Linked DNA regions of Homo sapiens. The gene in region 2 interacts genetically with the main gene of each other region. Each region holds a gene or a part of one and is shown on either strand. Other genes may lie near its edges.

What was found. Genes that interact genetically often act in the same process or in processes that back each other up.
Region 1: changes in MAP2K1 (region 2) and FH are lethal when combined (synthetic lethality), as found in Homo sapiens cells (one large-scale study listed by BioGRID).

What each region holds. Positions count from the first base shown.
Region 1 is NC_000001.11:241,502,650-241,506,255, reverse strand, and holds part of FH (fumarate hydratase, mitochondrial), read left to right. Parts: intron 1-87; coding exon 88-253; intron 254-2,010; coding exon 2,011-2,214; intron 2,215-3,606. UniProt on the Homo sapiens protein: Catalyzes the reversible stereospecific interconversion of fumarate to L-malate. Experiments in other species have demonstrated that specific isoforms of this protein act in defined pathways and favor one direction over the other.
Region 2 is NC_000015.10:66,385,412-66,389,011, forward strand, and holds the start of MAP2K1 (dual specificity mitogen-activated protein kinase kinase 1), read left to right. Parts: upstream 1-1,500; 5' UTR 1,501-1,936; coding exon 1,937-2,016; intron 2,017-3,600. UniProt on the Homo sapiens protein: Dual specificity protein kinase which acts as an essential component of the MAP kinase signal transduction pathway.

The DNA.
Region 1 (3,606 bases), on a different chromosome or scaffold from region 2:
TTTAAAAATTTCTATTTAATGCAGTTAGAGTAACTTGTAAGCTATTAGGAATTACTTATTCTTACCTTAATTTTCTTTTCTTTTCAGGAATTTAGTGGTTATGTTCAACAAGTAAAATATGCAATGACAAGAATAAAAGCTGCCATGCCAAGAATCTATGAGCTCGCAGCTGGAGGCACTGCTGTTGGTACAGGTTTAAATACTAGAATTGGCTTTGCAGAAAAGGTTGCTGCAAAAGTGGCTGCACTTACAGGTTAGTGATCACGTGAATTATTTCTCATTTTCATTTCTCATTATACGTGGTCTGTACATTTTCTGAGTGTTCCTGTCTTGAATTCTTGTGAATTTAAAGTTAGAAATGATATTTTTCCATCAAACATGTGTTTTAAGTATATTTCTGAAGTTATAATGTTAATTATTTGCCTTTTAAAAAATGTTCCATGTAGGAGTTTATACAGCATGCCATTAAAATCTACCAGTGTTAGCTTTGTTTACTAGTTAGTTTTCAATTAATTTCCCTTTAAAGTTTTGAATAGCAGTTTTCAAAATAGGCAGAAAAAACTGAGTGTTGAGTAAGTTATTTGAATAGTAAATATGTTGTAGACAGACTTAATTTCTTTTTTTTCCTATTATGTCATGCTGTGATAATTCTTTGAATTATTGACCTTTTTGAACCATGTCTTTCCTTTAGTAGAGAGAGTATTATACTTTAGATAATGATAACTATTATTAGGGCCAAGTTGTCATCTTCAGAAAACTCTCATTAAGATGTAGATGTTACCAGACGGTTAGGGTAGAGATAATTATACACTGCACATGATAGCTTACCAGCTGATTTGTCTTTAAACCATATTTTAATAGAAAAGAACTCTACTTTTAGGGTTTGGCAAATGTAGATTTATAAAATTTTTAACATGGGGGTTAACTGAGAACATCTAACTCATTTTAGCACACTGTTTTTATAGGGGATCTTGTGGGCTCCTGGCTAGGGGAGAGGATGAAGCACAGTAAAGTGGACAAAGAAACTTTAAAAAATTGTATTAGGGGCCGGACATGGGGGCTCACACCTGTAATCCTAGCACTTTGGGAGGCCAAGATGGGCAGATCACTTGAGGTCAGGAGTTCGAGACCAGCCTGGTCAACATGGCGAAACCCTGTCTCTAGTAAAAATTTAAAAAAATTAGCCGGGCATGGTGGCGGGCGCCTGTAACCCCAGCTACTTGGGAGGCTGAGGCAGGAGAATTGCTGGAACCCTGGAGGAGGAGGTTGCAATGAGCCAAGATCGTACCACTGCCCTCCAGCCTGGCTAAAAAAGCAAGACTCTGTCTCAAAAAAAAAAAAAAGAAAAAAGGTATTAGGAAAGGAGTGTGGTATAAACCAGAATGAATTCCCATATACTTTTTACTCAAGCATAGTCAGGCATCATATACGTGTGTTTGCAGTAGGATTGTGTTTTTTCTTTCAGTACATTTATCATACTTGTTATTTCATCTTTTTAAAATGTAGTGCCTGGCTAAGCACAGTGGAATTACACTCCTGTAATTCCAGCACTTCAGGAGACCAAGGTGGGTGGATCGCTAGAGCCTAGGAGTTTGAGACCAGCCTGGGCAACATGGCGAAACCCCATCTCTACTAAAAATTAAAGAATTAGCTGGGCGTGGTGGTGTGCACCTGTAGTCTTAGCTACTCTGGAGGCTGAGGTGGGAGGATTGCCTGAGCCATGGAGGTTGAGGCTACAGTGAGCTGTGATTGAGCCACACTGCACTCCAGCCTGGGCAGCAGAGTGAGACCCTGTCTGAAAAAACTTAAAAAATGTAATACCAGATTCTTTCTACTCCTTTAGGACTTCTTTTAAAAATGTAGACAAAATTTGAGTCTTAAGTAAACATTTTTTTCTGAAGTAAAATTTTTATTTTTTCGTATATTGGAACTTTCTGTTTCACTTGCTAATGGTAGAAAAATGTTTAGTTTAACTTGTTCACCCATCTAGGATATTTTTCTTTTCTTTAGGCTTGCCTTTTGTCACTGCTCCGAATAAATTTGAAGCTCTGGCTGCTCATGACGCTCTGGTTGAGCTCAGTGGAGCCATGAACACTACTGCCTGCAGTCTGATGAAGATAGCAAATGATATTCGATTTTTGGGTTCTGGTCCTCGGTCAGGTCTGGGAGAATTGATCTTGCCTGAAAATGAACCAGGAAGCAGTATCATGCCAGGTAATCACATAGCTAGTAAATGTTGGAGCTAAAACTTGACTAGGTCCTAGGCATTCTTAGCTATGGACCATGTCTCTCTTTGTTTAAAGTTATCCCGCAGCTGGATGCGCAAGGCGCACTGTTCCAGCATGTCTGTGGTCCTCTGGTCAGGACTGCTGGGCACGTCACCTGACAAGATAGGAAGAAAGAATCTGACTTAGCAGCAAGTATTTCGAATCCCACATTAGAAAATGTAGAGCAGGCTGTTAAAGTGATCAGCGCGGGTTGAATAAAAAGAAGTCATACCAAACTTCACTTATTTCATTTTTTGCATTCCGTTATATGCCTGTTAGATATAGCAAGTGACACAACAGTGTATGTCTGGATTTCAGCAAGTCATTTGATAGATTCGCATGATAGTCATTGATTCCAGTGGAGAAGCGTGGGCAGTGCTGGCAGATGAATGTAGCTGGGTGAACAGTGACATTTCAGAAGTGACTAATGAAGTGACTTCAGTCTAGAAGAATATATTGGTAACAAGCTGAAGGGCTCTGCCCTTCAACACTTTACTGGTGACTGAGGGTGAAGGAAGAGAATACATGCTAATCATATTAACAGTTAACAAAGTTGGGATAGCAATACTATGGATGACAGAACTGAGATCCATAAAGGCCACTGTAGCTTGGGCTAAAACTGACAATGTAACTTTTAATAGTGAGAAAGGCCTGACTCTAGATTTTTATGGAAATTATGGATCTGTAGAATAAGAAGAGATGAAATTTTGTTTTAAAGTACTTCATGTTGAAGAATGACATAAAGGTTTAGTTGATTGCAAATCCAGGGTGATTGCCAAAAGAAAGAGAACTGGGGGAGTCACAGATAAAGGCAATAATCCACCCAATAATCTTTCCAGTGTGTTAACTTGTACTGGTCAGAGGAATCTGGGTTGTTTGATTCAAACTTGGAGCTTGTCCAAGGAGTGTGAGCAGGGTAGTGGGGTTCCAGAGACTCGTGATAAATAGGAAAATTTTAGCTTAGCATCACCTTCCCCTAGGAAGCCTCCCATGTGTTAGTGAAGGGTCGCTTTTATAAGTGTTCTGATAGCAGCATACACTACTCTGTATTTACCCCTTATAATTGCCAGCTCTTTCTCCCTAGCCTCCAAGTTCTGCGAGGGCAGGGCCTGCATCTTTCTTATTCAGTGTTGTATATTGAGTGCCTGGCTCCATAAATATGTATAGAATGAATGAAAATCATGAAGGTGGAGAACTATATTTAATGTGTAGTTGTGGCTACTCGTTAGCCTTTGAATGATTCATTTTGTGGCTACCCATCCCACCTTCCTTGGTTGGTTTGTTTCATTAAATTACACTGATGGTTGGGCCTTGCTTTATTGTATATCTTACTCTATTT
Region 2 (3,600 bases):
TGGGTATTGTGCCTCTTATTAAGCTCTTTATTCACATCTTATTTCTTTAGTAATTCACAGAATTGGAATTTTTGGATTAAAGTTCTTTTTTTTTTTGAGACGGGGTCTCACTCTGTCGCCCAGGCTGGAGTGCAGTGGTGTGATCTTGGATCACTGCAACCTCCGCCTCCCGAGTTCAAGCAATTCTCTGCCTCAGCCCCCCAAGTAGTTGGGATTACAGGCACCCGCCACCACGCCCAGCTAATTTTTTGTATTTTTAGTAGAGATGGGTTTCACCATCTTGGCCAGGCTGGTCTTGAACTCCTGACCTCGTGATCCACCCGTCTCGGCCTCCCAAAGTTCTGGAATTACAGGCGTGAGCCACCGCGCCTGGCCTGGATGAAAGTTTTTTTAAAGGGAGTCTTGCTCTGTAGCCCTGGCTGGTGTGCAGTGGTGTGATCATAGCTCACTGCAGCCTCAAACTCCTGGGCTCAAGTGATCCTCCAGCCTCAGCCTCCTCAGTAGCTTGGACGACAGCTGCACACAACCATGCCCAGCTAATAGAGACGGGGGACTCACTATGTTGCCCAGGCTAGTCTCGAACTCCTGGGCTCAAGTGATCCTCTTGCCTGGGCCTCCCAAAATTGGGATTACAGGCGTGAGCCACCGCTCCTGGCCCGAAAGAGTGTTTTTAAGGCTTTAAAAAAATATTGCCAACATGGTGAAAACCCGTTTCTACAAAAATACAAAAAGGATCCGGGCATGACGGCGAGTGCCTGTAATCCCAGCTACTCAGGAGACTGAGGCAGGAGAATCGCTTGAACGTGGGAGGCAGAGGTGGTAGTTAGCGGAGATCGCGCCACTACACTCCAGGCTGGGCAACTGAGGGAGACACCGTCTTAAAAAAAAAAAAGTTCCCAAGTCTAAAAAAAAAAAAATCATCAATCTGCTCTCAAAAACTGTCGCAACAATTTACAATCTCATCAGCACTGAGTATCCATTTCCTTGCACCCTTCTCAGTAGTATTACCATTAAACAAACAAAATTTATATGCGTCAGTTTGTTGGGCTCAAAGGAGCCTCTCGACAAGTTTCCTATTCCCCACGCTGCCTCTCCTCTGGACACAGGAAGGGGTCCTTTTCCTTATTTATTTTGTTATTTCATTTTCGTCAACACGGCTCGGCTTGGGGACAGGGGTCGGGGGCAGGCCGGTTACCGCAGAGGTGGAGGCCGCGCGGCACCTGGCCTGGAGAGCTCACCACACAGCGACACAGACTTCTTCTCAGCTGGGTCCACCTGCTTGCCTCGGGGCGACAGAGGGCGCCACGGCGTCCGCGACGGACCCCGCCCCCAGGCAGTGCGCCGCGCTCCCGTGACGTATTTCCGCGTCATCTGCCGCCGAGGCTTGCCCCCATTGGTTGTCTGCGAGGCAATAGGGGCGGAGCCGAGTGGGAGTGTGGAAAGCGCCGCATCCCGGGTGGGAGGCGAGGCTTCCCCTTCCCCGCCCCTCCCCCGGCCTCCAGTCCCTCCCAGGGCCGCTTCGCAGAGCGGCTAGGAGCACGGCGGCGGCGGCACTTTCCCCGGCAGGAGCTGGAGCTGGGCTCTGGTGCGCGCGCGGCTGTGCCGCCCGAGCCGGAGGGACTGGTTGGTTGAGAGAGAGAGAGGAAGGGAATCCCGGGCTGCCGAACCGCACGTTCAGCCCGCTCCGCTCCTGCAGGGCAGCCTTTCGGCTCTCTGCGCGCGAAGCCGAGTCCCGGGCGGGTGGGGCGGGGGTCCACTGAGACCGCTACCGGCCCCTCGGCGCTGACGGGACCGCGCGGGGCGCACCCGCTGAAGGCAGCCCCGGGGCCCGCGGCCCGGACTTGGTCCTGCGCAGCGGGCGCGGGGCAGCGCAGCGGGAGGAAGCGAGAGGTGCTGCCCTCCCCCCGGAGTTGGAAGCGCGTTACCCGGGTCCAAAATGCCCAAGAAGAAGCCGACGCCCATCCAGCTGAACCCGGCCCCCGACGGCTCTGCAGTTAACGGGACCAGCTCTGCGGAGTAAGTATGGGGCGGGCGGTGAACCTCGGGGCCCGGCTGGGGAGGCCCGAGCCGGGGAGCAGGAGCGCGCGCCAGGCTCCGATCTGGTTTGTCACGTACGTCTGGGGCTGGCAGGGGGCGAGAAACTCCCGGCCGCCGAGGTATCGGTGACTAAGCACTGATTGTGTTCCTGACTCAGACCAGTTAGCGGATCCCGCGGGTCTCCATTCCTCTCTGTACCCCTTTTCCCGACCGTTTTAGTGGTTCCTGGCCACTGTACAGTCTTCTCCCAAGAAAATAAAAGCTAGCACGTCTCCCCTGCCTCCTCCCAGTTCTGTTCTAAATGTGATCATCTGGGAGTCTGGCCTGTAACGGGGAGAGGAGGCTAATGTTTTGGAAAGAATTAAGATCGCATCTGTGCTTTTGAGACCAGCTCAGGGTATTAAGTGTGGAGCATCATCCTCACCTTCATGCCTGACACCTGTGGGGCCTGAGTGCCTTGTTGCAGGCCAACTGCCTGGCCAGCGGGGGCGTGCTGGAAGTCCGTGTGGACTTCGTGGCTTTTCCTTGCTGACTTTGGAGGTTCCTGGTACTTGGCCTTCCTGGGAAATTGCTCAAGAAAGCGGCTTTCTTCTTCATCCTACTCTTCATTCATTCATTGAACAAACCATTTTCTCACTAATGATTTCCTAGCTTTCCGTACTTCACCAGGAGCCCCTAAACTCCTGACCTGAGGCATGAACACCATGACCTAGAAACCACATGCTAGGTGCTCCATCTCTGCAGCTTCCAGCGTTGCTTACAAACGAGCACTTTATTTCATTAAATAATCATGAGTCTGTTTCCTGGGGGTTTCTGAGCTCCCACAACTCTCTTGGGTTCTAGGTAAGGGACAAGACTATGTGAGGGAAAGCTGCTTAGCTAGCTAGAGAAATAGCCAGAAAAGATTAGGTTATTATTATTTTTTTGCCTTTTTTTGGTTGTTGTTTGCCCAACCTTCAATAAGGATTGGGTTCTTAATCTTTTACCTGCACACTGCAGACTTTAGGAAGCTAATTGATGAAATCAGAATAGGCTTGGACCTTATGCTCTTTGGTGATTTCTGTAACCTCCCTTCCTTTCTCTAGATTTTTAGAAAATTTTATTTTTTAAACTTTTATACAGATGGGGTCTTGCTATATTGCTTAGGCTGGTCTTGAACTCCTGGACTCTAGCGATCCTCCCAAAGTGCTGGGATTACAGGCATGAGCCACTATGCCCAGCCAACTTTCTCTAGATTTTAATAACCCGGGGACCTGTTGGCTTGATGACTTGTTCCATCCCTGTAATGATCACAAGGTCGATGGTGGACCTGTGGTGTGTGTTCAGCTGTGTTTTTCAGACCTGCTCCCAACAGACTCTCTTCTTTAGTCCCCTCTCAATCCTGTGGGGTCTATTTTGCATAATACTGACTTGTATAGGTAGTTGGATTGCATTATTGCATTGCAAACATTTGTTCTTTTTTTTTTTTTTTTTTTGAGTCGGAGTTTCACTCTTGTTGCCCAGGCTGGAGTGCAATGGTGCGATCTTGGCTAACTGCAGCCTCTGCCTCCCGGGTTCAAGCGA